Linked DNA regions of Homo sapiens: region 2 is linked to region 1. Evidence: fine-mapped expression QTL. A gene starts in region 1. The other region holds a variant in brackets. All regions are shown on one strand. Distances are between the middles of the regions.

The links. PIP is the estimated chance that this variant, and not a neighbour inherited with it, causes the effect.
Region 2: its variant is fine-mapped to the expression of KLK11 in lung (TOPMed, PIP 0.96).

What each region holds. Positions count from the first base shown.
Region 1 is chr19:51,017,394-51,030,250 of GRCh38, forward strand. It overlaps KLK11 (kallikrein related peptidase 11), which reads right to left and starts at 9,223. Exons shown (of 6, transcript NM_001136032.3): 1 at 9,145-9,223; 2 at 8,199-8,273; 3 at 7,245-7,401; 4 at 6,652-6,917; 5 at 5,699-5,835; 6 at 4,843-5,304. The coding sequence starts at 8,238. The coding sequence ends at 5,152. It overlaps KLK12 (kallikrein related peptidase 12), which reads right to left. Exons shown (of 6, transcript NM_001370125.1): 6 at 11,701-12,064. The coding sequence ends at 11,909. It overlaps KLK10 (kallikrein related peptidase 10), which reads right to left and starts at 2,316. Exons shown (of 6, transcript NM_145888.3): 1 at 2,234-2,316; 2 at 1,650-1,746. The coding sequence starts at 1,737. RefSeq lists enhancers at 8,302-8,860, 8,861-9,418, 9,978-10,534 and a silencer at 12,567-12,798.
Region 2 is chr19:50,969,405-50,980,248 of GRCh38, forward strand. KLK7 (kallikrein related peptidase 7) reads right to left here. Exons shown (of 6, transcript NM_005046.4): 4 at 10,836-10,844; 5 at 10,384-10,520; 6 at 7,064-8,287. The coding sequence ends at 8,132. It overlaps LOC105372442 (a long non-coding RNA gene), which reads left to right. Exons shown (of 7, transcript XR_007067308.1): 5 at 3,556-3,656; 6 at 3,777-3,929; 7 at 5,256-5,322. KLK6 (kallikrein related peptidase 6) reads right to left here and starts at 187. Exons shown (of 7, transcript NM_002774.4): 1 at 86-187. The variant T/C (reference allele first, on the strand shown) is at 7,443.

The DNA of each region.
Region 1 (12,857 bases):
AGCCAGAACGCGAGGGTGGTAGGGAAATATTGGGGGTTTCGCGTGCACCGAAGGGAATGGGAGGAGAAGAAGCGCGTGAAAGTGGAAGGAAGCTGGGATAGGGTAGCGTGGAGTAATGAGACAGAATAGGGTGGGTCTGGAGGGCAGGGACTGAACGCAGCGCGCCTGGAGAGCTGGCTAGAACGTCGCTGGTCGATAGAGGGGCGGGGATTGAACGCGGCGGGGAGGTAAGGGTGCGGGGATAGAACTCGGGGATCGGGGAGAGGAAGGGGTGTGAATAACAAAACGGGATTGAAAACCAGGAGAGGGGTGGGGCGCAGTGGTTTACGCCTGTAATCCCAGCACTTTGGGAAGCCGAGGCGGTTGGACCGCTTGAGCTCGGGAATTCAAGACCAGCCCGGGCAACACAGCAAGACCCAGTCTCTACAAAAACAAACAAACAACAACAACAACAACAAAAAAGTAGTCGCGGAGGCATGCGCCTGTAGTCACAGCTACCTGGGAGGCTGAGGTGGGAGGATCGCTTGAGCCCAGGAGGTGGAGGTTGCAATGAGCCGAGATTGGGCCACTGCACTCCAGTCTGGGCGACAGAGTGAGACCCTGTCTCAAAAAAAAAAAAAAAAAAAAAAAAAGCCGGATGTGGTGGTGCATGCCTGTGGTACCAGCTACTCTGGAGGCTGAGTATCGCTTGAGCCCAGGAGGTCGAGGCTGCAGTGAGCTCTGATTGGGCCACTGTACTCCAGCCACGGAGACAGAGCACTGCCCTGTCTCAAAAAAAAAAAAAAAAAAAAAAGAAGGAAAGAAAAAGAGAGAGAAAGAAAAAAACAAGAAAGAAAGAAGAAAAAATAAGAGAGAAAGTAAAACAAGAAAGAAGAAACAAACGAAAGGAAGGAAGGAAAGGAAGGAAGGAAAAGAAGAACGAAAGAAAGAAAAGAAAGAAAGAAAAAGAAAAAAGAGAGAGAAAGGGAAAGAGGAAGAAAAAAAGTGAGGGGAGAGGGCAAAAAGCGGTAAGGCAAGACTCAGGATAAAACACGGTGGTGTGGCCGGGAGCGGTGGCTCACGCTTGTAATCCCAGCACTTTGGGAGGCCGAGGCAGGCGGATCACGAGGCCAGGAGATCGAGACCACGGTGAAATCCCATCTCTACTAAAAATACAAAAAACTAGCCGGGCTTGGTGGCGGGCGCCTGTAGTCCCAGCTACTCGGGAGGCTGAGGCAGGAGAATGGTGTGAACCCGGGAGGCGGAGCTTGCAGTGAGCCGAGATCGCGTCACTGCACTCCAGCCTGGGCGACAGAGCGAGACTCCGTCTCAAACAAACAAACAAACAAAACAAAACACGGTAGTGTAAAATGGAGCGGGGCCGGGATGGGGCGGCGTAAGAGGAGGAGAAAGAACGCGGCGAAGAGTCCACGGAAGAGCGAGGATCCGGGTGGCAGAAATCGGACAGGGCCTGAGTGGGGCGGGTCACCCAGGGGCCGAGCCAGAAGAAGGGCCCAGCTGACTTGGGGGCGGGCCGTGCTCCGGAGCGCTGGGTGGGTGCTGGGGTCTCGGGGGAGGAGAGGTGCGCGGGGCTTGGTGACGGGAACACATTCTCCTCCCGCCCGTGCCTCCCACCGGCGCCTCTCCCCGCCCCCTGCCCCCGACCTTACCCCAGAGTTGCGCCATCAGCAGCGGCAGCAGCTTCGCCAGAGCCCGGGCGCCAGAGGCGGCGGAGAGGTGGAGGTGCGGAGCTCTCATGGCCAGGATCTGCTGGGGTGTGTGCAGGGGCGGGTTAAAACAGATGCTCCGTTAGAGACCCCCACCTCGCCGCGCTCATCCGCCCAGCCTGGGCCACCCCAGCCCGCAAGCACCCTTTTGACCTGCAGCCGATAACCCCAGGGGCTGGCAGACGGGAGATTCGGGCTGGAACAGCGGTAATGGGCACAATTACCCTAATGACGCCCCTCGCGGCATCTTCCCGTCCTCCCTGTGCCCGAGTGGAGCGCTCTCCGCGCCCCAGCTACCCTGGCTGCAGCCACGCCGCGCCCGAGGTTTCCCCCTCCTTCACGCGCGGGGTGGGGATCCGAGGCTCGGAGCCAGTGGGAGCCTCTTTCTCAACCTCACAGCGGGGGGACTTCCGCGTCCCGCAGGTGGAGAAACCGAGGCTCTAAGCCGGCTCCTGCCTGTGGCCCGGGGGTCCCCACCCATCCTCTCGCAATCCACCCCAACCCGGGTGGGGTGCAGGTAGCTTCACCTGGGAGTCGCCGATAGGAAGGAGGGAGGGGACCCAGACGTGCCTCTGCCCTGCCTGTGGTCTGCCGCTGGTATCCTCTGCCCAGGGACCCCTGGCGGGACCTTCCCTTTTAACCCCAAGGAGTCCGGAAGCTTCTCCACCCTCCCCTACCCCCACCCCCGGGCTCCCTCCCTTTCCCTCTGTCTAATTGTACCGTGGGTGAGGCTGGCACTCCTGGGTCCCAGATTCCTGCTCTGGGAGGGGCCCTGGAATACAGGCTTCTCCCAGTGCCCGAAACGCCCCCTTTTCATCCCTTTTGGAACTGGCTTCCGTGGGGATTCTCCGGGTCCCGGTGCCAAGAAGGCTTCCCAGGCGCGGGGAGAGGGTTCACGTCCCCAGCAAGGCTAGGGGTGGCAGGATGAGAGGCCACTGAGCAAGAGGAAATCAATGGGAAGTGCATACCTAGAGTGACAATGTGAGAAGCCAGACTGTGGAAGAGGAAGGAGGAAGGCCTAGAGATAAAGCAGGTTGAGTAGGAGGGACAGAGGCTGGCTTGAAAAGGGAGATTGTAACAAACCAAGGCTAAAAGAGCCAGAGAGAGAGAGAGAGAGAGAGAGAGAGAGAGAGAGAGGGAGGGAGGGAGGCGCCGAGGCTAAGAGAAACAGAAACAAGGAAAAAGGGAAACCCACGCCCACTCTGTGGCCGTGAGTGAGCTCTGTGTGTGTCCCAGTGACTAGCCCATGTGCGTGTTGGGGGGGGCTGTGGCTCTGCCTCATACCCATGTGTGGCCATCTCACACCCTCCCTGCCATCTGTGTGCCACCAGGTGACACACAGGCCCCTGAATCATAGGAGGTCAAAGCTGTGAGGGGCATCGGCATCACCTCAGCCAACTCCCTCATCTCAGGTGAGGAGTGAGAGGCTCAGAGAGGGCAGAGACTCACAGGAGGTCACACAGCAAGTCCACTTGACAACCAGAAGGCCCTGGTTCCACTCTGGGCTCCTATTGCTCATGCCAGCCACTTCTGCGAGGTGAACAGACCATCCCAAAAGATCCTGAGCTGGCCGGGCGCGGTGGCTCACGCCTGTAATCCCAGCACTTTGGGAGGCCAAGGGGGGGCGGATCACGAGGTCAGGAGTTCGAGACCAGCCTGGCCAACATAGTGAAACCCCATCTCTACTAAAAAGACACAAAAATTAGCTGGGGATGTTGGCACAGGCCTGTAGTCCCAGCTACTAGGGAGGCTGAGGCAGGAGAATTGCTTGAACCTGGGAGGCAGAAGTTGCAGTGAGCCGAGATCACGCCACTGCACTCCAGCCTGGGTGACAGAGCAAGACTCTGTCGCAAAGAAAAAAAAAAAAAAAGATCCTGAGTTCTGGATTCTCTCCGTGGGACATCCTCTTCAGAGGCCATCTAACTCAGTGCTGCTCAGCTGAACTTTCTGCAGTGATGTTTTATATGCACTAGCTAATCCAGCCACCACCAGTCACATGTGGCTATCCAGCCTTGGAGATATAACAAGTGAGACAGAGGAGTTACATTTCTGGCTTTATGTAATTTTAATTGGAAGAGCCAGCTGCGGTTAGTGGCTACCATATTGGCCAGCAGAGGTCTCCACTATCTAATTACCTATCATGGAAGTTGGAGAAAAACAATAAGCTCCTTTGGTTAGGTCTTAGTATGTGCAGGCTAACTGACTTCTTTACTTACTGTGTTATACTTTTGCATGCAGCATTTTACAGGAAAGGAAACAAACAGAGCCTTACTCCAGGAACATCACTTGGTAATTAAGAGATCGCCTTGCTTCAGATCCTTGCTCTCCTAGCCACGTGACTGTGAGCAAGTGACTTTGCTTCTCTGTGTCTGTTTCTTCAACTATAAAATAGGTATGAAAACAGTACCGACCTCACAGGGTTTTGTGAGGATTAAGTTGATACATTTGAAAGTGCTTGGAGGCCAGGCACAGCGACTCATGCCTGTAATCTCACCACTTTTGGAGGCTGAGGAGGACAGACTGCTTGAGCCCAGGAGTTTGAGACTAGCCGGGGCAACATACTGAGACCTCTGTCTCTACGAAAAATACAAAAATTAGCTGGGCTTCGTGGCATGTGCCTGTAGTCCCAGCTACTCTGGAGGCTGAGGGAGGACAATCACTTGACCCCAGGAAATTGAGATTGCCGTGAGCTGTGATTGTTACTGCACTCCAGCCTGGGCAACAGAGCAAGACTGTCTCCTAAATAGATTAATTAATTTAATTTCTTTTAATTAATAAATGAAAGCCGGGCGGGCGCGGTGGCTCACGTCTGTAATCCCAGGAGTTTGGGAGGCCAAGGAGGGCAGATCATCTGAGGTCAGGAGTTCGAGACCAGCCTGGCCAACATGGTGAAGCCCCATCTCTACTAAAAAATACAAAAATTAGCCGGATGTGGTGGTAGGCACCTGTAATCCCAGCTATTCAGGAGGCTGAGGCAGGAGAATTGCTTGAACCCAGGAGGTGGAGGTTGCAGTGAGCAGAGATAGCACCACTGTACTCCAGCCTGGGTGACAGAGCGAGACTCTGTCAAAAAATAAAATAAAATAAAAGCCATTGGATCAGGGTCTAGCACATAGTAAGCACTCAGTAGATTCACTCATTTAGCAAATATTTATTGAAACCTTGATATATGGCCAGGAGCTGTCTTTGGGGCTGGGGATACAACAGAGAACAAACCAGGTGTTGTCATTCCCAGAGTCACAATATTTCAAGGCAGAATTTGAATCCAGGTCTCACTGATTTCGAACCCCAGGTTGATTATTAAGTGACAGCATCTCCTGTAGTCCAGGAGGCCCAAAGAATGTTCGTAGAGGGTCTTGGCTTAGGGTTTCTTATTAACAGAGTGAACAGGAACCAAACACCAAGTGGAAATGGAGGGTGATGGGCTGTGGTGGGTGGGTCCAGTCTAATTGTTCTTCATCGTCTCCTGGATCCAGTCCACATATTTGCAGACTTTCGTGTAGACACCAGGCTTTCGGGTGATCGCACACGGATCCTGGCCCCAGGAGATAATGCCTTGAAGAGACTGGTTACAGACCAGAGGGCCCCCGGAGTCACCCTGGGCACGGGGAGAGAGAATGTCGGTCAGAGAAAGCGTTGAGCATGGTGTTAGCCAGGGAGGAGGTGGGGACGGTGCTTAGGAGTGGGGCCGAGACAGGATGGGTAGGCACTGGGAAAGGTGATAGGTTTAGCGATAAAGCTGGGATTATGGGTGGGATAAAGGATGGGGTTAGGCTCAAAAACGAGTTTGGGGATGGTTGGAGCTGGAAATGGTGTGGAAACGGGGATGGAGCTGAAGTTTGTGCTGAGGTCAGAAACGGGAACAGGGGAAGAGATGGATTGGGAGTTGCAGGGGTCGGCGGGTTGAGGTTGGGGATGAAATTGTGGATGTCGGTAAAGATGTCATTGAAGCTGGGGATGGGGATGGGGCTGTGGTTGGAGACCACACTGACCTGGCAGGAGTCCTTGCCCCCTTCCTGCACGCTGGCACACACCATGGTGTCTGTGATGTTGCCGGGGTAGGCGTTCTCACACTTCTGGTGCTCAATGATGGTGATGTTGGCGCATCGCAAGGTGTGAGGCAGGCGTACTGTGGAAACAGCGTGAGGGGCTGTGGGAATGAGCCCCCTGCCACCTCCCCTAATGCAGTGCTTGCTGTGATCCCGCCCCTGGGGGAATCCCTGTCCTTAGACGCAGCCAACTCACCTCTCTTCTTGTAACAATAGCAACAGCAATGCTATCCAGCTTTTTTTTTTTTTTTTTCGAGACAGAGTCTTGCTCTGTTGCCCAGGCTGGAGTGCAGTGGCGTGATCTTGGCTCACTGCAACCTCCGTCTCCCAAGTTTAAGCGATTCTCCTGCCTCAACCTCCCGAGTAGCTGGGATTACAGGCGCACACAACCACGCCCAACTAATTTTCACATTTTTAGTAGAGATGGGATTTCACCACGTTGGCCAGGCTGGTATCAAAGTCCTGACCTCAGGTGATCTTCCCACCTCGGCCTCCCAAAGTGCTGGGATTACAGGCGTGAGCCACGGTGCCCAGCCTGCTATCCAATAAATGATTTATGTCAGTTGCTTGATATACATTATCTCTAATCCAATCCTGACAGGTGGGTATAATCATTCTCATTTTATAGAGAAGAAAATCAAGATTCAGAGAGGTGAAGCTGCTTGCCTAAGGTCTTACAACCAGGAGGTTATGGATGTATGATTGCATATCCCGTCCGTCTGACTCCAAGGCCCCAACTTTTGTCCCCACCCCCCTATCCTGACGTTTTCCACACATCCTCTCAACTTATCCCACATCGTCACTGTGAACCGCATCTCTGATGCCCTGAACCCTTCCACAATCCTGACCACTCCCTCCTCACCACCCCCTGCCAGGTTCCCCTCTGGTGCTCCTACACTGGGGGCTGGACGTGCTGCCCCAGCCGGAAATGAGGCAGCTGGTGCCAGCAGTGACACAGCGTGAGGAGAGGGTGAGGGGTCGCACAGCCCAGGTGATGGAGACTGGCGATGCCATCTTCACCAGCATGATGTCATTGCGGTGGTCTTTGTTGGGGAGGCTGTTGTTGAAGCCGGGGTGGGGGAAGGACTCAGTGGCTGTCCGGGTCTGCTCACAGCCCTCCTCCTTCTGGAGGTTGTGCTGCCCCAGGTGAACTATGTAGCGGCTGAGGTGGGAGAGACAGTAGTTGGAGGAGGAAAGGTCGGGGGAGACATGGGTGGGAGAGGTGAGTGACACCTTTGAGGATGAAGAAACATCGCTCTGCTTCCAACCTCTTCCACGTCTCCCACCGAAGCCCCCTTCCCAGCCATAGCCCCATCCCAACCCCATTCATCCCCCCACCTTCAATACCAACTCGAGCCCATCAACCTTGCTGACACTACCCATCCCCATCTCTAATCCCCTTACCAGCACCCCTATCCCTGAGCTTCTCTCCATCCATCTCCCCATTCCCAGCCCCCCACCCCGGCACCGCCCCAGCCCCCGCACCCACGGCTTGAGGCAGTGGGCTGCTGTCAGGAGCCATCTGGGGGCGATGAGCGTCGCCCCACAGAGTAGCCGCGTCTTCTCGAACAGGGCTGCCTGCCAGGGCTGGGAGTGAGGCTTGCACTCGAACCCCTTGATGATCCTGGTCTCTCCCCCTACAAGCCCTGGAGGGGGTGAGAGCAAAAGAAGGGGCTCAGGAAGGAGAGGTGGTAGACCAGGAGGACTCCCAGAAATGGGGGTGGGGAGGAGAGAAAGAGAGTGGGTGGTCTGGGCCCTGGTCTGGTGTCCCTCTGGGTTGCCCTGGATGCTGGGGTCGGGTATTAAAGGATGAAAATACTTCCATAAGGTCAAATGCAGTGGCTCATGCCTGTAATCCCAGCACTTTGAGAGGCTAAGGTGGGAGGATTACTTGAGCCCAGGAGTTCTAGATCAGCCTAGGCAAACATAGTGAGACCTCCTCCCCCATCTCTACAAACAATTAAACAATTAGCCTGGCTTGGTGGCAGGTGCCTGTGGTCCCAGCTACCGGGGAAGCTGAGATGGCTTAAGGATCACTTAAGCCCGGGAAGTCAAGACTGCAGTGAGCCGTGTTGGCACCACGGCACTCCAGCCTGGACAATAGAGCAAGACTTTGTCTCTGGGAAAAAAAAAAAAGGAAATACTTCCATACTGGTTGGTCAGTAGCCCCTGTCCTGGGCGCTTTGAGTGACTGCTCCCCCAACTCCAGCTTCCTCAGCCCCTCCACGGGACCCTTTACGACCCCCTTGACCTCTCCTCCTTTGGCATTTAAAGGGATTATCTAGAAGGGCATCCAGGCCCTCATGACCACTGCTCCAGTTCAGGTGCCTTATGGGTTGTTCTGTAATTTGGAATCAGCCCTGTCACTGTCCAGACACAGAGGGTTAGGGGATCCCAGAGATTCAAGAGGGAGGATCCTGCCCTGCCCCCATCCCCTGCGTACCTGTTGCCAGAGCAAGCAGGATTAACTGCAGAATCCTCATGGCCTGGAGGGGGGAGGAGCGGGCCCCAGGTTCCTCTGGGAACAAGGAGGGACATGGGGCCGCATCACTTTACGGGGAAATCGGGAGGGGGGGGCTGGCTCATGCCCTCTCCTCTCTCCCTCACCTGCTCCCGCTCCCCACTTGGGAGAAACAAGGTTGGGGAAATCCCCTGTTTCTCACAGCACTCAGATCTCCAAACACTTAAAATATATCTTAGGTGTCTAGGGTGGCCTTGGAGAGGGCCTGGTCACAGCTAGAAGCTTCCGAGATACCAAGAACCATGTGGAAGTCGTTGGGAGGGGCTTTGAGCTGTCAAGCCATGGTTCGGCCCTGTTCAAGTCAGCCATGGGACCTCCCCGGCACATGTCAGAGGATGTTTTCCTTCTTGCCTTGAGAGCTGGCCAGGCCCCAGCAGCTTGGGGTGGAAGGACAAGGGGAACCAGACACCGTTCCGTAGCCACCCCTTTTTCATTGTCTTCGCAGCAGAGCGATATGGAGCCTTTGAGGTCTGCTGGAGGGGAGTAGGGGGCTCAGCCCCAGACAATGTCTGGGACCCCCATCACCCGGCTTGCTGAAGCCCTGTCCGCCAAACCCCTGCCCTTTTGAAGGACAGCCAAGCAAAGCTGGGCGGGGCTGGTCGAGGGGAGGGCCAGTGCCCTCCGCTGCCCTGGCCAGCGGGGGTGGGAGCAGAGGGCCAGCTCAGCAGCTGAAGCCATGGAGATTAGAGGTAACTGAGGCTGCGGACAGCCATCGGAGGTGAGAGGTGTAGAGAGAGGCCAGGAACCCCCACCCAAGCAGAGAAGGACAGAGCAGAGGGAGAAATGGGTGCCCGAGTGGGACAGGTGTCCTTGGGGAGGGCTGACACCTGGACGGGGAGGGGCAGCTTCCCTTTCCTCCTGGACTCACAGGCTCTGGGGCTGGGGCTCTGGGGGCCCAGTGGCGGCGGAGACGGCAGTGGCGGCAGCTACAGCAGGTAGGCTGGGTTGGAGCGCCAGGTGCCAGGCACCAGGCAGGCGGGCTGGCAGGGGGGCGGCCCTGGGCGGGCCCAGGATGACTGGCCTCCAAGCCCTGCCTTAATGCCCCGGGGCGGGGTGTGTGTGAGGGCCCTCCCCGGAGGCCTCTGAGGCACTGGCTGCCTGCCTGTGCCACCTCTCCAAGCCCCTCTTCTCCCTGTGTCTCAGCCTCCCTCTGTCTGTCTGTCTGTCTGCAGCCTTCCTTTCCCTGCCCTGAGTCTCTGAATCTGTGTCTCGTTCTATGTGTCATTCCCTGTCATTCAGTAATTCTGACTTTGTGTGATTTTTCTCTTTCTGTCCCTATGTGTCTGTCTGCCTTTCTCTGTCCTCGTCCCTGTCTCCATCTCCACTCTTCTCTCTCTGTCTGGCTCTGTGTGGCCCTTTCTCTAATTCCTTCTATCTTTGTGTCTCTCAGTCAGTCTCTCTGACTGCATCTCTGGCAATTTGTCTTGAAATCCCTCTTCTTCCATCTAATCTCCGTCTCTCTTTTTCCTCCCGTCCCAGCCACTCCCTCTCCACAGCCCCAGCCCAGGTGGGCCCCTGGCCTCCCCTAGGCCGCTCCCTTCTCCTTTGCAAGGAGAGGGGGGGTGTGCTGGGATGTCACACAGGTGGGGCTGCTGCCAGGCACAGGGGCAGGACCGGAGGGTGGGGGAGGCAGGTCAGGGCCTGTGGAAGCCGAGTCCAGGAAAGGGAACAGAGCCCTTGGCTGTGCTCCACCCCAGGGCTCCTCTGGGGCCTCGCTCCTCTGCTGACCCTTCCCCTGCCCGCTTCTCCCTGCCGCCCAGGCAGCCCGAGTCCAGCTGTTCACTTACTGGCTGCTGTGAGACCTCTGCCCGATGACTTCCAGTCCCGCAGCCACCTCAACCTCTGCATCTGCGGAACCCGAGCGCAGATTCCTGCTTCTCCCAGCTTGTTTGTTTTCAGTTAGGTCCCTTCCCTTGGCTTTCCTCCCCTCTCTCCCCTGACCAGGTGTGGAGCAAGGCAGGGGAGGGCCTAGGTTCTGACAGCAGCCAGCCCTGGCCTCAAACCTAGGTGCTTCCTCTTCCTACTACTATGACTACCCTTATGACGTGGGGACAAGGGACTCCACCCCTGCAAGGCTCAGTTTCTTCATCTGAGAGATGGGGGTGACAGACCTGCTTGCAGGGGAGGTTGGGATCAGGCTTCCAGGAGGGTCCACTTGGAAAGAGCAGACTGCGGGGGGGCTCAGCAAATGTGCCTCCGCTGGTATGATCACCCCTCACTCCCTCCCTCCTCCAGTTTCCCTTCAGTGCATTTGGGGAGATGGTCTCTCCTCACCTCTTGAGTCCCAGTGGAGACAGAATCCAAGGGGTGGGCAGGAGGATTAAAGACGTAGGCTGAGCTCTCCTGCTTTCCAAGCCTGCACTCCACCCTTCGTCTTATTAGAACAAAGCCACGTCCCACATTAAAGATACAATGTATGCTTCATTACAAGAAAGTAAACTGCAGTTGGCTAGTGGAAAGAATGCTACGTTTTATGGACATTGGATTAAATGGTCATAAATGTTGACTTTGCAGCTTTCATCTGGTATTTTGGAGCTAACAATTTTCTTTTTCTTTTTCGGGTCTTTTGTGGACTCTTGAAAAGCTTATAAGCTCTGGGCACTATTTCTATTATGCCAGATGAAGAAACATGTGTCTTATTTATATTGCTGGGTTTTTGTTTTTGAGACAAGGTCTCACTTTATTGCCCAGGCTGGAGTGCAGTGGCATGATCTCGGCTCTTTGCAGCCTCCACCTCCCCGGCTCGGGTGATCCTCCCACCTCAGCTTCCCAAGTAGCTGGGACTACAGGCACGCACCACCACACCCAGCTAATTTTTTGTGTTTTTGTAGTGACAAGATTTCACTGTGTTGCCAGGCTGATCTCGAAATCTGAGCTCAAGCCATCCTCCCACCTCGGCCTCCCAAAGTGCTGGGATTACAGGCGTGGGCCACTGCACCCGGCCTATATTATTAAAAGTAACTTTTTCTACTCCATTTCTGAGTAACTACTCAGGGAAGACCCTCATCCTATTTGAGCACTGGGTTTTTTGTTTGTTTGTTTTTGAGATGGAGTCTCGCTCTGTCGCCCAGGCTGGAGTGTAATGGTTCAATCTCGGCTCGCTGCAGCCTCTGCCTCACGGGTTCATGCTATTCTCCTGTCTCAGCCTCCTGAGTAGCTGGGATTACAGGCATGCGCCACCATGCCTGGCTAATTTTTGCATTTTTAGTAGAGTTGGGGTTTCACTATGTTGACCAGGCTGGTCCCGAGTTCCTGACCTCAGGTGATCCACCTGCCTCAGCTTCCCAAAGTGATGGGATTACAGGTGTGAGCCACTGTGCCTGGCCTTATTTGAGCTCTGTTTCTACTCCTATGAGATAGGGAAACTGCTGAGTCCTTCTTCCAGTCTCAACCAGCATGAGGACTTCAAATGGACAGACATGGCCCCTCCTTCATTTATATTTATTCCAGACTATTGCACACTTCTCTCACCCCGCTCGTGGGTCTTAGAAGGGCTGGCAGGAGTTAAAGTTCCAAGAAGTTCCCAGGCCAACAAGAGTGGAGCTAGGGGAAGTGATGGAGGAGATATTGGTGCTCTGAGGGCCAGAGGGGTACCCAAGTTAAGGGGTGGGGGTGGAGGTGGAGGAAACAGGTCAGTTGTTCCTCATGATCATCCGGATCCAGTCCACATACTTGCAAATATAGGTGTAGACTCCAGGGATGCCATCTTGTCCACAGGGCCCCACAGACCCCCAGGACACCAGACCTTGAAGGACTCCCCCACACACCAGGGGGCCCCCAGAATCACCCTGGAAGGGAAGAGAAGTACTGTCTGAACAAGGGAGACATCTTATTTCTGTTTTCCTCCCCAACCCTTCAACCCAGTCCTGGGCCTTGGGGAGGGCTCCAAGTCTGGTCATTAGACAAAAGAGTATAATCACTTTCCCGGAGGACAATGGCAATGGCTAACCAAAAGAGAAGAACCACTGTCTCTAGGGGCCAATCCCAGGGAAGAAGGGTGGAACTCCATAAAGGACAGAGGTTCTCTCAAGGACAATGGCTGGGGCCCTGACCAATGAGGAGAGAGAGCACAGTCATTAATGACCAATCTCAGGGGAGGCTGTCAAGACAACATAAAGAGTCGAGCATTCTCTCAAGGACAATGGCTGGGGCCCTGACCAATGAGGAGAGAGAACACTATTATCAATGACCAATCCCAGGGGAGGAGGGTGGGACTCCATAAAGGATAGAGGTTCTCTCAAGGACAATGCCTGGGGTTCTGACCAATGAGGGGAGAGAGTGCCATCAAAAATGACCAATCCCAGGGAAGGTGGGCAGGACTCCATCAAAAGCACAGAGTTCTCTCAAGGACAATGGCTGGGGCCCTGACCAATGAGGGGAGAGACCGCCATCCTCAAATCTCTCTCAGTCTGGGACAGCACCAACTGGAGGATGGTATGGGAAAGACTTAGAGCCCCAGAAACAGCTGGTTCCCTGTCTGGGCTCCCAGTCCTCTCCGTCTGTTTTGCTGTCTCTCTCTGTAACCCCTGCCCCATCTTTCCTTCTCTGTTCCCTTCCTCCCTCTCTCTCCCTGCCCCTCCC
Region 2 (10,844 bases), 49 kb before region 1:
GCAGGCCCTCACTCCGGGCTCTAGAGCCCTCCGGCACTGGGAAGCAGCCTGCCCAGGTTCAGTGCGGTTGGGGTGACTCACACACCTGCCCGTAGGTCCCTCTGTGTGCTGCCTGCCGACCTCTGTGTCCCCAGGAGAGAGCGAGCCAGCCAGCCGGGGAGACAGCTACAGCGTGTGTCACCACACTGGCCCCCGCCCCTGCCCCGGGCTGGGGAGCAGGCCCAGGCGCGATGGGGAAAGGGCCCAGGAACAATCGGGCTTTGTCCGCCCCCAGCACCCCAGTGCCATGCTCCCAGCAGCTCCGGCCTCAACCTCTCTTCCGGCGGGCAGGCGGGAGGGCGGTTACATCAATGGCTTCCTTTTGTCCCTGTCTGACAGTCCTCCTTTGCAGTCTCTGACTGCCCACCTGGCCCTGACTGGAGATTTCGGCACTCCACATCCTCCTGGTCCTTCTCCTCCAAGTCTGCCCACCCCTGAGGTCTCTTGCTCCATCTGTCTCCCTGGCCATGGAGGGGAGGGAGCTTCCATCTCTCTCTCTCTCCCATCTCAGTCTCTGTATTTGTGTCTCTCTCCCTCTTTTTTTCTCTCTCTCCCTTCCTCTCTCCCTTCCTCTCTCCCTTCCTCCCTTCCTTCCTTCCTTCTTTCTTTCCTTCCTTCTTTTCTTTCTTTCTTTCTTTTTTTTTGACGGAGTCTTGCTCTGTCACTCAGGCTGGAGTGCAGTGGTGTGATCTCAGTTCACTGCAACCTCCGCCTCCTGAGTTCAAGCAGTTCTCCTGCCTCAGCTTCCCAAGTAGCTGGGATTACAGGCACCCACCACCACGCCCGGCTAAATGTTTTTTGTATTTTTAGTAGGGAAGAGGTTTCACCATGTTGGCCAGGCTGGTCTCAAACTCCTGACCTCAGGTGATCCACCCACCTTGGCCTCCCAAAGTGCTGGATTACAGGTGTGAGCCACTGTGCCCGGCCTCTCTCCCTTTCTTTCCCCTTGATTCTCTGACTCTCCGTGCTTATCTTCTCCTGGGTCTCTTCTTAGATTTCCCCGGGGGTAGCACTGTGTGTGCCCAGAAGGGAGTCAGTTTCCCCAGGAAGTAGCGGGGATGATTCCCGAGCGATGAGGAAGCTAGCAGGATGGAAGAGGACTTGAGGACTTATTGATGAGATGCGGACACACAGCGAGAGGCATGGAGTTAAGCAGAAATCGGAGAGCACTTGGGAACGACGTGGGGCTGTGATAAGATGGTGGTGCTGGGCAGTAGCAGAGGGATCTGGGAAGATTTAGGGAGGTGTCTTTGAACTTGGGCCTAGAAAGCTGAGCCAGGCGTAGGTCAGGAGGAAAGGCCGTGAAAATGCCTGGCCTGGGTGCACATGGGAAACCACAGGCAGTGGTTGGGGTGGTTGGTATGGGCTGGAGGGTGAGGGTGTGTGCGTGGCAGAGTGGAGAGAAATGAGGAGGGGGAAGTCACTGCGTAATAAGGACAATGATAGGAATGAAGTCTGGCTCAGCACCTGCTTGGGCTGGGCACTACAGGTAACTTAAAAAAAAAAGTTCTTTTTTCTTTTGAGACAAGGTCTTGTTCTGTCGCCTAGGCTGGAGTGCAGTGGCACGATCCTTGCTCGTGGCAGCCTCAACCCTCCTGGGCTCAAGCGACCCTCCCGCCTCAGTCTTCCCAGGAGCTGGGACCATAGGCATGAGCCACTGTTCCCAGCCAACCCTTTTCTTTGTCTTGCATTGAATCTAATTGTCATCTTGCATTGTGCACCCCCCATCACTCCAGGGATGAAGACTACTTCGGTATTCAGTATACTCTCCGGGTGCTCCCTCTCACATTTGGTCCCCACTGACCTCAGCACCTTCTTCTCAGGACGTGCTATCTTCACAGACAGCAAGTCTGATGTTGCACAACCCAGTGACCAGGCCCTATCCCTCTGCCTCCTCTCTCTGGGGGGTCCCTTCCTCTCTGTACCCACACCCTCAACCCCAACTCAGAGCTGCACCTCTCCCACCTGGACCAGGATCCCTCTGTTCTCTGTATCCCTTGCCCCAGAGAGACCTTCCTGTGCCTTGTGCTGACCTTGCCCCTCCTCTCACAGACGTGCCCTGGGTCCCCATCTCCCTTGGGACCAAGTCCCAGCCCCCCAGCCTGGCATTTGAGGACCTTTAGCATCCAGGGAAGTCCTGGCCAATGAAATGTGATGCCAAGCACGCATGCACATTTACATTTTCCAATCACCATACTTTTTTTTTTAAGTCAGAAGATTTTTTAAGTGTCCTTACCACAAAAAATAAGGGTGTAAAATAATGCATATGTTAAATAGCTTGGTTTAGCCATTCCACAACATATACATACATATATCAAACATGATGTTATACACCAGAAATATATACAATTTTTACTTGTCAATTAAAAAATAAATTTAAGGCCAGGCATGGTGGCTCATGTCTGTAATCCCAGCACTTTGAGAGGCCAAGGTGGGTAGATAGCTTGAGTCCGGAAGTTCATGACCAGCCTGGGCAACATAGTGAGAAACCATCTCTGCAAAAAGTAAAAAAATTAGCCAGATGTGGTGGTGCACACTTGTAGTCCCAGCTACTCCGGAGGCTGAGGCGGGAGAATTGCTGAGCCTGGGAGGTCGAGCCTGCAGTGAGCTGTGACTATACCACTGCACCCCAGCCTGACATGGCTGGGCAAGGTGGCTCATGCCTGTAATCCAAGCACTTTGGGAGGCAGAGGTGGGAAGATCACTTGAGCCTAGGAGTTCGAGACCAGCCTGGACAATATAGTGAGACCCTATCTCTAAAAAAAAAAACAAAAAAAAGAAAAGAAAAAAATTACCTAGGTGTGGTGGCACACATCTGTGGTCCCAGCTATGCAGAAGGCTGAGGTGGGATAGTTGCTTGAGCCTGGAGGCCCAGGTTGCAGTAAGCCATAATCACGCCACTGCACTTCAGTGTGACAGAGCCAGACCCTGTCAAAAATTTTTTTAAAAGGAGTCCTGAGTGGTGAGTGGCCCTCACACTGCATGACACAGCTATGTCTACGTCTCCGTGTGGCTCCAGCTTTCTAGAACACATCAAGCTTCCCTGACCCATGCCATGCCCTCTGGCCTCTGGCCCTTCACTGAATGCTATTCCCTCTTCTTCTTGAGATGGAGTCTCGCTCTGTCGCCCAGGCTGGAGTGATGTGGCGCGATCTCTCTTCGCCTGCTGGGTTCAAGCAATTCTCCAGCCTCAGCCTCCCGAGTAGCTGGGATTACAGGCACACACCACCATGCCTATATTTTTAGTAGAGATGGGGTTTCACCATGTTGGCCAGGCTGGTCATGAACTCCTGACCTCAGGTGATCTGCCTGCCTCGGTCTCCCAAAGTGCTGGGATTACAGGCGTGAGCCACCGTGCCTGGCCTATTCTCTCTTCTTAGCATGTTTTCCCCACCTTTTCCTGGCAATAACCTGTCCTTCAAGTCTTTACTTGGACATTACCTCCTCCAGGAAACCTTCCCTGAACACCACCCAGCTGCCACCTGCTGTAGTTGGATTACTCATTCTCTCACGTAGGTTCCCACAGCAGGTGTCTCCCTCAACCCAACCTGGACGGGGGGCCACCTGGATTGACATTCGTCATCTCTTCCACTGGACCGTGAGCTCCTTGAGGGCAGGTACGGGACTGACTCATCCCTGTGTCCCAAGCAACCACACAGGACCTTGCCCAGAAGAAGCCTTAGGCAAGACTGACCAAATGACTAAATGACTTTATCACACCCACTCCCATTTTACAGATAAGAAAACTGAGGCTCAGAACGGGAAGTTCATTGCTCATCATCAAACATCCAGGAAATGGTGGAGCCTGAATGGGAACTCAGCTTCCAACATGGCGTGGATGTGGCCCATCCCTTGGTGGCCTGGCTGGGTCTATCTTATGACAGTACGAGGTGAGTGAACTTGGGAGGAATTGTTGAGAGCTGGGTGGGGAAAGAAGGGAGGTGTTAGGCTGTGGGGAGTGGAGGGACTTTGAAGAGAAAGAAATTTCTAACTCTACCTCTTCTCTGGTGACCTTCATGGTTTGCCATCTCTGCATACTTTGAATGCTTATTTACTGGATAGTTTGCTCCAGATTGTCTTGCTCTGCAAAACTCTTCACTAAATAAATTCTTCTGTCTCGGTGCAGTGGTTCACACCTGTAATCCCAGCACTTTGGAGGGCTGAGGTGGGAGGATTACTTGAGCTCAGGAATTAGAGACCAGCCTGGACAACATAGTGAGACCCCGTCTCTACTAAAAAAAAAAAAAAAAATCAGCCCAGGCATGGTCCCAGCTACTCGAAAGGCTGAGGCAAAAGGATTGTTTGAGCCCAGGAGACTGAGGCTGCAGTGAGCTATGATCATGCCACCAAACTCTAGCCTGGATGATAGAGCAAGACCCTATGTGAAAAAAAGAAAAAAAAAATTATAAGGAAACTTCATGAGACTGTAAGCAGAAAAAAGTGCCAGAAGTCATAAACAATAAAAACCAATGCCTGGGCCAGGCGCGGTGGCTCATGCCTGTAATCTCAGCACTTTGGGAGGTCAAGGCGGGCAGATTGCCTGAGGTCAGGAGTTTGAGGACAGCCTGGCCAACGTGGTGAAACTTGGTCTCTACTGAAAATACAAAAATTAGCCGGGCATGGTGGCAGGCACCTGTAATACCAGCTACTCAGGAGGCTGAGGCAGGAGAATCACTTGAACCTGGGAGGCAGAGGTTGCAGTGAGCTGAGATCGCGCCATTGCACTCCAGCCTGGGTGACAAGAGCAAGACTTTGTCTCAAAAAAAAAGAAAAACTAAACTAAACTAAACTAAACTAAAACCAATGACCATTGAAGGAAGGCTTACCTCGTGCCACACAATGTTTGAGCACTTTCTGTATATTAACTTATTGAATCTCTGTAATAACCCTAGAAAGTAGGTGCTTTTTCTCCCATTTCAAGGATGAAGGAACAGGGACAGGGGAAGTAATGAGCTTAAAGGAAAATAGCTTGTAGGGACTAGAACTGGGATTTGAACCCAAGAAGCCAAGATCCAGAGCTAGTCCCTTAACTACCACACTATACTGCTTACCCAAAGAAAAATGAATTACTTAAAAAAAATCAACATTAGTACCATCTCAGTCATTGCAAACCAATCTACCTGTAGCTTGCGTATAGGAGAGCAGAGGGCCAGGGCCAGGGATCTCCAGGCTGACTTAGTGCAAATGCAATGTTTTGTTACTTTTTAAAATTCCAGATTGAATGTTGGAGTGCCTTGCAGAAGAGAGAGAAAATGTTGCTAAAACTTCAGGGGAATGACTGGTCGAAAATGTTTGACATTCTTAAACTTGACAGGCCCAGAAACAGAAGGGGCTGGGGACCTGGGCTCCTGGGTCTGAGGGAGGAGGGGTTGGGGCGGGGGGTCTGGACTCTTGGGTCTGAGGAAGGAGGGGCTGGGGGGGAGCCTGGACTCCTGGGTCTGAGGGAGGAGGGGTTGGGGCGGGGGGTCTGGACTCCTGGGTCTGAGGAAGGAGGGGCTGGGGGGGATCTGGACTCCTGGGCCTGAGGGAGGAGGGGCTGGGGGGAGTCTGGATTCCTGGGTCTGAGGGAGGAGGGGCTGGCGGCGGGGAGCGGTCTGAACTCCTGGGTCTGAGGGAGGAGGGGCTGGGGGGAGTCTGGACTCCTGGGTCTGAGGAAGGAGGGGCTGGGGGCGGTCTGGACTCCTGGGTCTGAGGGAGGAGGGGCTGGCGGGGGGGGGGGTCTGAACTCCTGGGTCTGAGGGAGGAGGGGCTGGGGGTAGTCTAGACTCCTGGGTCTGAGGGAGGAGGGGCTGGGGGGGAGTCTGGACTCCTGGGTCTGAGGGAGGAGGGGCTGGGGGGGAGTCTGGATTCCTGGGTCTGAGGGAGGAGGGGCTGGCAGGGGGGTCTGAACTCCTGGGTCTGAGGGAGGAGGGGCTGGAGGGAGTCTGGATTCCTGGGTCTGAGGGAGGAGGGGCTGGTGGGGGGGGTTCTGAACTCCTGGGTCTGAGGGAGGAGGGGCTGGGGGGAGTCTGGATTCCTGGGTCTGAGGGAGGAGGGGCTCGTGGGGGCAGGCCTGCACTCCTGGGTCTGAGGGAGGAGGGGCTGGGGCTGGTCTGGACTCCTGGGTCTGAGGGAGGAGGGGCTGGGGGGAGTCTGGATTCCTGGGTCTGAGGGAGGAGGGGCTGGGGTTCTGGACTCCTGGGTCTGAGGGAGGAGGGGCTGGGGGGAGTCTGGATTCCTGGGTCTGAGGGAGGAGGGGCTGGGGGGTCTGGACTCCTGGGTCTGAGGGAGGAGGGGCTGGGGGCCTGGACTCCTGCGTTTTCTGTGTTAGCCTCCTATATGGGAGAATCAGAATTAGCGGCTGCAGAATTTCTGCAATATGACAGGGCTGTGGTGCCTGGGTTAGGAGAGACTCAGAGGGAGATGAGATAAGGAGGGGAAGGATCTGGAGGATCTTGGTGGGGAGGGAATTCTGGGAGAAAAACAGGAAGAACAGGTAGGAGGGCGTGTCCTGGGCTGGAGTGGCTCCTCGGTCAGCAGCGTCTGAGGTGTGACCACACAGAGGATCTTTGATGTTAGATGGCTGGGGCTGTGGCCAGGCTCTGAGTCACAGAGGACTCCTCCCTCATCCTACCCGCTTCCCGAGGTTCCTTTCCCTCCCTTCTTGGGGAGCAGGTGCCACCATCTTCCTCCGGCACTGTTTGCTTACTTCTGGCAGACCCCCGTGGGACCCCTGTGTCCTGTCTACTGTCATCCCAATCCCTCTGAAAACCGCCAGCCTCCCTCCTCACTTGTCACTCGTGAGATGCTCAGAAACACTTTCACACCCCTTCCCACGCTGATGAAGTTGGCCTGTTCTCTCCTCCCTCCTCCCTTCCTTCTTCCTCTCTCCATCCTTTCCTCTCTCTCCCATTTTACAGACAGGAAAAACTGAGATCTGGGAAATGGAAATATGCCCTGGAACAGGGCCGGCAGGACCAGGGCTCAAAACCAGGCACATATTTCTTTCTAGTCTCCCTTCCTGAAAGGTCACCTCTCTCCAATCTTAGATCTTCAGACTTTTTTCCCCACCTTTATTTTTCATGTTATAAAAGTGCACATTCAAGGAAAAGTACACAGAAGGAAGGAGACACCTCATGACGACCCCAGTATGCAGTCTGGGACATGTGTTTTCAGATCTGATTCTGTGAATATTTCATTTTTTATGGGTAGGGTCACATACATATATATTTTTGTCCTTCCTTTTGTCATTTAACATCCTATAGCCTAAATGTTCTTGAATAATACTGACAATTCTGTCTAAGTATCATTTTTAATAGGTTTGTAATATCATTGTGGGCTGGCCGTGGTGGCTCATGCCTGTAATCCCAGCACTTTGGGAGGCCAAGGTGGGTGGATCATCTGAGGTCAGGCGTTCAAGACCA[T/C]GCTGGCCAACATGGTGAAACCCTGTCTCTAGTAAAAATACACAAAAAATTAGCCTGGTGTGGTGGTGCACACCTGTAGTCCCAGGTACTTGGGAGGCTGAAGCACGAGAATCACTTGAACCCAGGAGGCGGAGGTTGCAGTGAGCCAAGATTGCATCACTGCATTGCAGCCCAAGCAACAGAGACTCTGTCTCAAAGAAAAAAAACATCGTTGTGCCAAGCCAGACTATTATTTAAGCCATCTGGTACTTTTGGAACATGTTTGATGGTTTCACTTCATTTCTGTGATAAATAATATCATGGTAAATTCAAGTCTTGTTCTACATTTTGGATTTTTTTTGTTTCAGTAGGTTCTTCCTAAGATTAGAGTTACTGGGTCAAAGGTGGTGAATAAGGGTCTCGGTGTACGTTGACCAAGTGTCTTCCGTAAAGACTGTACGAACGTCCAGTTCCAGTGTTTGAGAGTGCTGGTCTCACTGACTCTTCTCCAGCACTGAGGGTTTTGTGTTTCTTTATTTGTTTTGGTTTTAGGTCTTTACCAATTTGATTGGTTTATCAACAGGGCATGAGGTTGGTTTAAATATATCTTTGAGGAAAGGTAAAGTCAAATTTGACTTCATAGGTCATCGGCGTCCTCACTCCTGTGCATTTTCTGTTGGAAGCACACAGTTAATTAACTCAGTGTGGCGTTAGCGATGCTTTTTCATGGTGTCATTTATCCACTTGGTGAACTTGCACACTTGAGTGTAGACTCCTGGGTCATTGGGTTGGCCGCAAGGGAAAGTTCCCCAGGACACCAGACCTTGCAGGGTACCTCTGCACACCAACGGTCCCCCTGAGTCACCCTAGAGGGAATAGAGCCGGAGATTAACTTTGGCTTCAGATCAAAGCCCAACTCATTCTCATACATTCCTCAGTTATCGGTCTTTGTCTTGCAGATTATGGACTTCCACCATAGCCAATGAGAAGAGACTCATTGTCTCTGGGGACTAATGGGAGAGCTAGTGCTAGGGACACACTAGGTCCTTTGAAGACACTGGTTTGACCCTTGGCCAATGAGACCAATTGCAGAGAAGGGGTGGGGCTTCCAGGATCAGAGCACTCTTTATTTTCCAATGTTAAGGACCCTGCTCCAAGCTAGTGGGAGAAGGAACATCATCTCCAAGGGGTGGATGCGTGCCCTGTGGCGCAGGAAAGGGGGACACGATGGTCTCGGAGACCAGGGTGAAGACCAGTTACATAATTTACAGGACTTGGTGCAAAACGAAAATGCAGGGCCCTTTGTTCAAAAATTATTGAGAATTTCAAGACAACAGCAGGAATGCATTAGACTAAGTTTGAGACCCTTCTGAGTGTGGGGCTCTGTGTCCGTGCAGAGCTTGCACATTCATGAAACTGGCCCTCACCAGGGGAGAAGGGGAACACCCTATTCTCTAGGACAGTCATCTCTCTCCCATCTCCTCTATCCCTAACACTCACCATCCCACATCCCCTGACAGCTGAAGGTGCAGATGTGAGCAAGGAGGATGGGTGTGGAGAGACAGAGAGAGTTGGAGGTGGAGAAGAAAGAGGGAAAGGAGAGAGAGACAAAGAGAGATGAGGAAGAGGGAAAGGGTATGGGGAGAGAGAGAGACAGAGAGATGGGGGTGGAAAAGAAGGAGGGAGAAGAGAGACAGACAAAGAGATGAGGGAGATGGGGAGGGTGTGGGAAGAGAAGAGAGAGAGAGATGGGGGTGGAGAAGAAAGAGGGAGAAGAGAGAGACAAAGAGAAAGGGGGGGAAGGTGTGGGGAGAGAGATGGGGTGGGGGTGGGGAGAGGAGAGAGAGACTGGAAGAGAGGAGGAGAATAAAGAGAGAGAAAGAAAGACAGAGATGGGGGAGCGGCAGGGAGAGGAGAGAGATAGAAGAAAGAGAAAGAGAGAGACAGTAAAAAGGAGGGGGCAAGGAGAGATGAGGGAGAGAGATGAAGAGAGACAGAGAAGTGGGGGAGAGAGAGAAAGAGGAGAGGGCCAGAGAGGAGACAGAGAGAGAGGAAAAAAGAGAGAGCAGGGGGGCAGGGAGAGGAGAGAGGGAGGGGAGGAGAGAGAGAGAAGCAAGAGAAAGAGGGAGAAGACAGAGAGCAGAGAGGAGGGCATGGAGAGAGAACAAGGGAGGGAGAGCAAGCTAGCTCAACACAGAGAAAAAACAAAGAGGAAAAGAATGAAATGAAATTATGTCACAAAGAGAGATGTGGGAAGACTGTTCAGAAACAGAGGGGATGACAAAAGGCCAGAAAGAGGGAACAGAGAGGAGGTGGAGAGAAAGAGTGTTTTCCCCGGGACCAGGGCCAGGGTCAGGTGAGTGAGTCATCAGCTTCAGGCACAAAATCTCAGTAACTGCAATACACAATACTTCAATGCAGTACTTAACGAAATCAAATGTAATACATAAAACTGCATGATGGGCATGGTATCCACATTTTAAATGAAGACAGTGCCAGTACAGCGCTGTGCTGAGCCACGCTAGTACTTACGGCAAGGGAAAATTCAGTAAGATCCACCTGCTCTTTATTTAAAATGTGACATTTTGTCCATCATGGACTTCTGCATGAGTTTTTATTTTTATTTTTAAATATTGCATTATGATTTATCTCAATCACTGAGGTTTTTGGTGCCCCCTTAAGGTTTGGGCCTGAGGCCAGCACCTCAGTCTCCTTCCCTGGTCCCACCCCCACTTTCTCACCCCTATTAAACTCTCTGTCTCATCCCCAGGGCCACATTGGCCCCTAAGTAAACTCCCACCCCTGACCTAGGCAGAGAATGAGGTGGAAAAAGCTGAGGAGGCCAGGCCTGGGGGGAGGGCAAGGCCGGGCTTGGTACCCAGTCACTCGGGTCAAGCTCTGTCCCTGGGGCATGCAGACAGGGTACCCAGGACTGGGGAGGAATTGGGGGGGAGGGTCTCACATTGCAGGCGTTTTTCTTGGAGTCGGGGATGCCAGCGCACAGCATGGAATTTTCCAGTAAGTCCTTGTAAACCTTCGTGCAGTCCTGGGGGGAGATGAGCTTGACATCCACGCACATGAGGTCAGAGGGAAAGGTCACTGCAGGGAGGAGCAGGGAGAGCTGTCAGTCAGAGAGGATGGGGGCGAGGACCAGAAGGGCTGTTGTTCAGGCTCCTGGTTCCGAGGGAGGAGGGTCTGGGGCCCAGGACTGCTGGGTCTGAGGGAGGAGGGGCTGGGGTCTGGACTCCCGGGTCTGAGGGAGGAGGGGCTGGGGGCCTGGACTCCTGGGTCTGAGGGAGGAGGGGCTGAGGCCTGGACTCCTGGGTCTGAGGGAGGAGGGGCTGGGGGCCTGGACTCCTGGGTCTGAGGGAGGAGGGCTGGGGCCTGCACTCCTGGGTCACTGAGGCCACCTACCATCTGGGC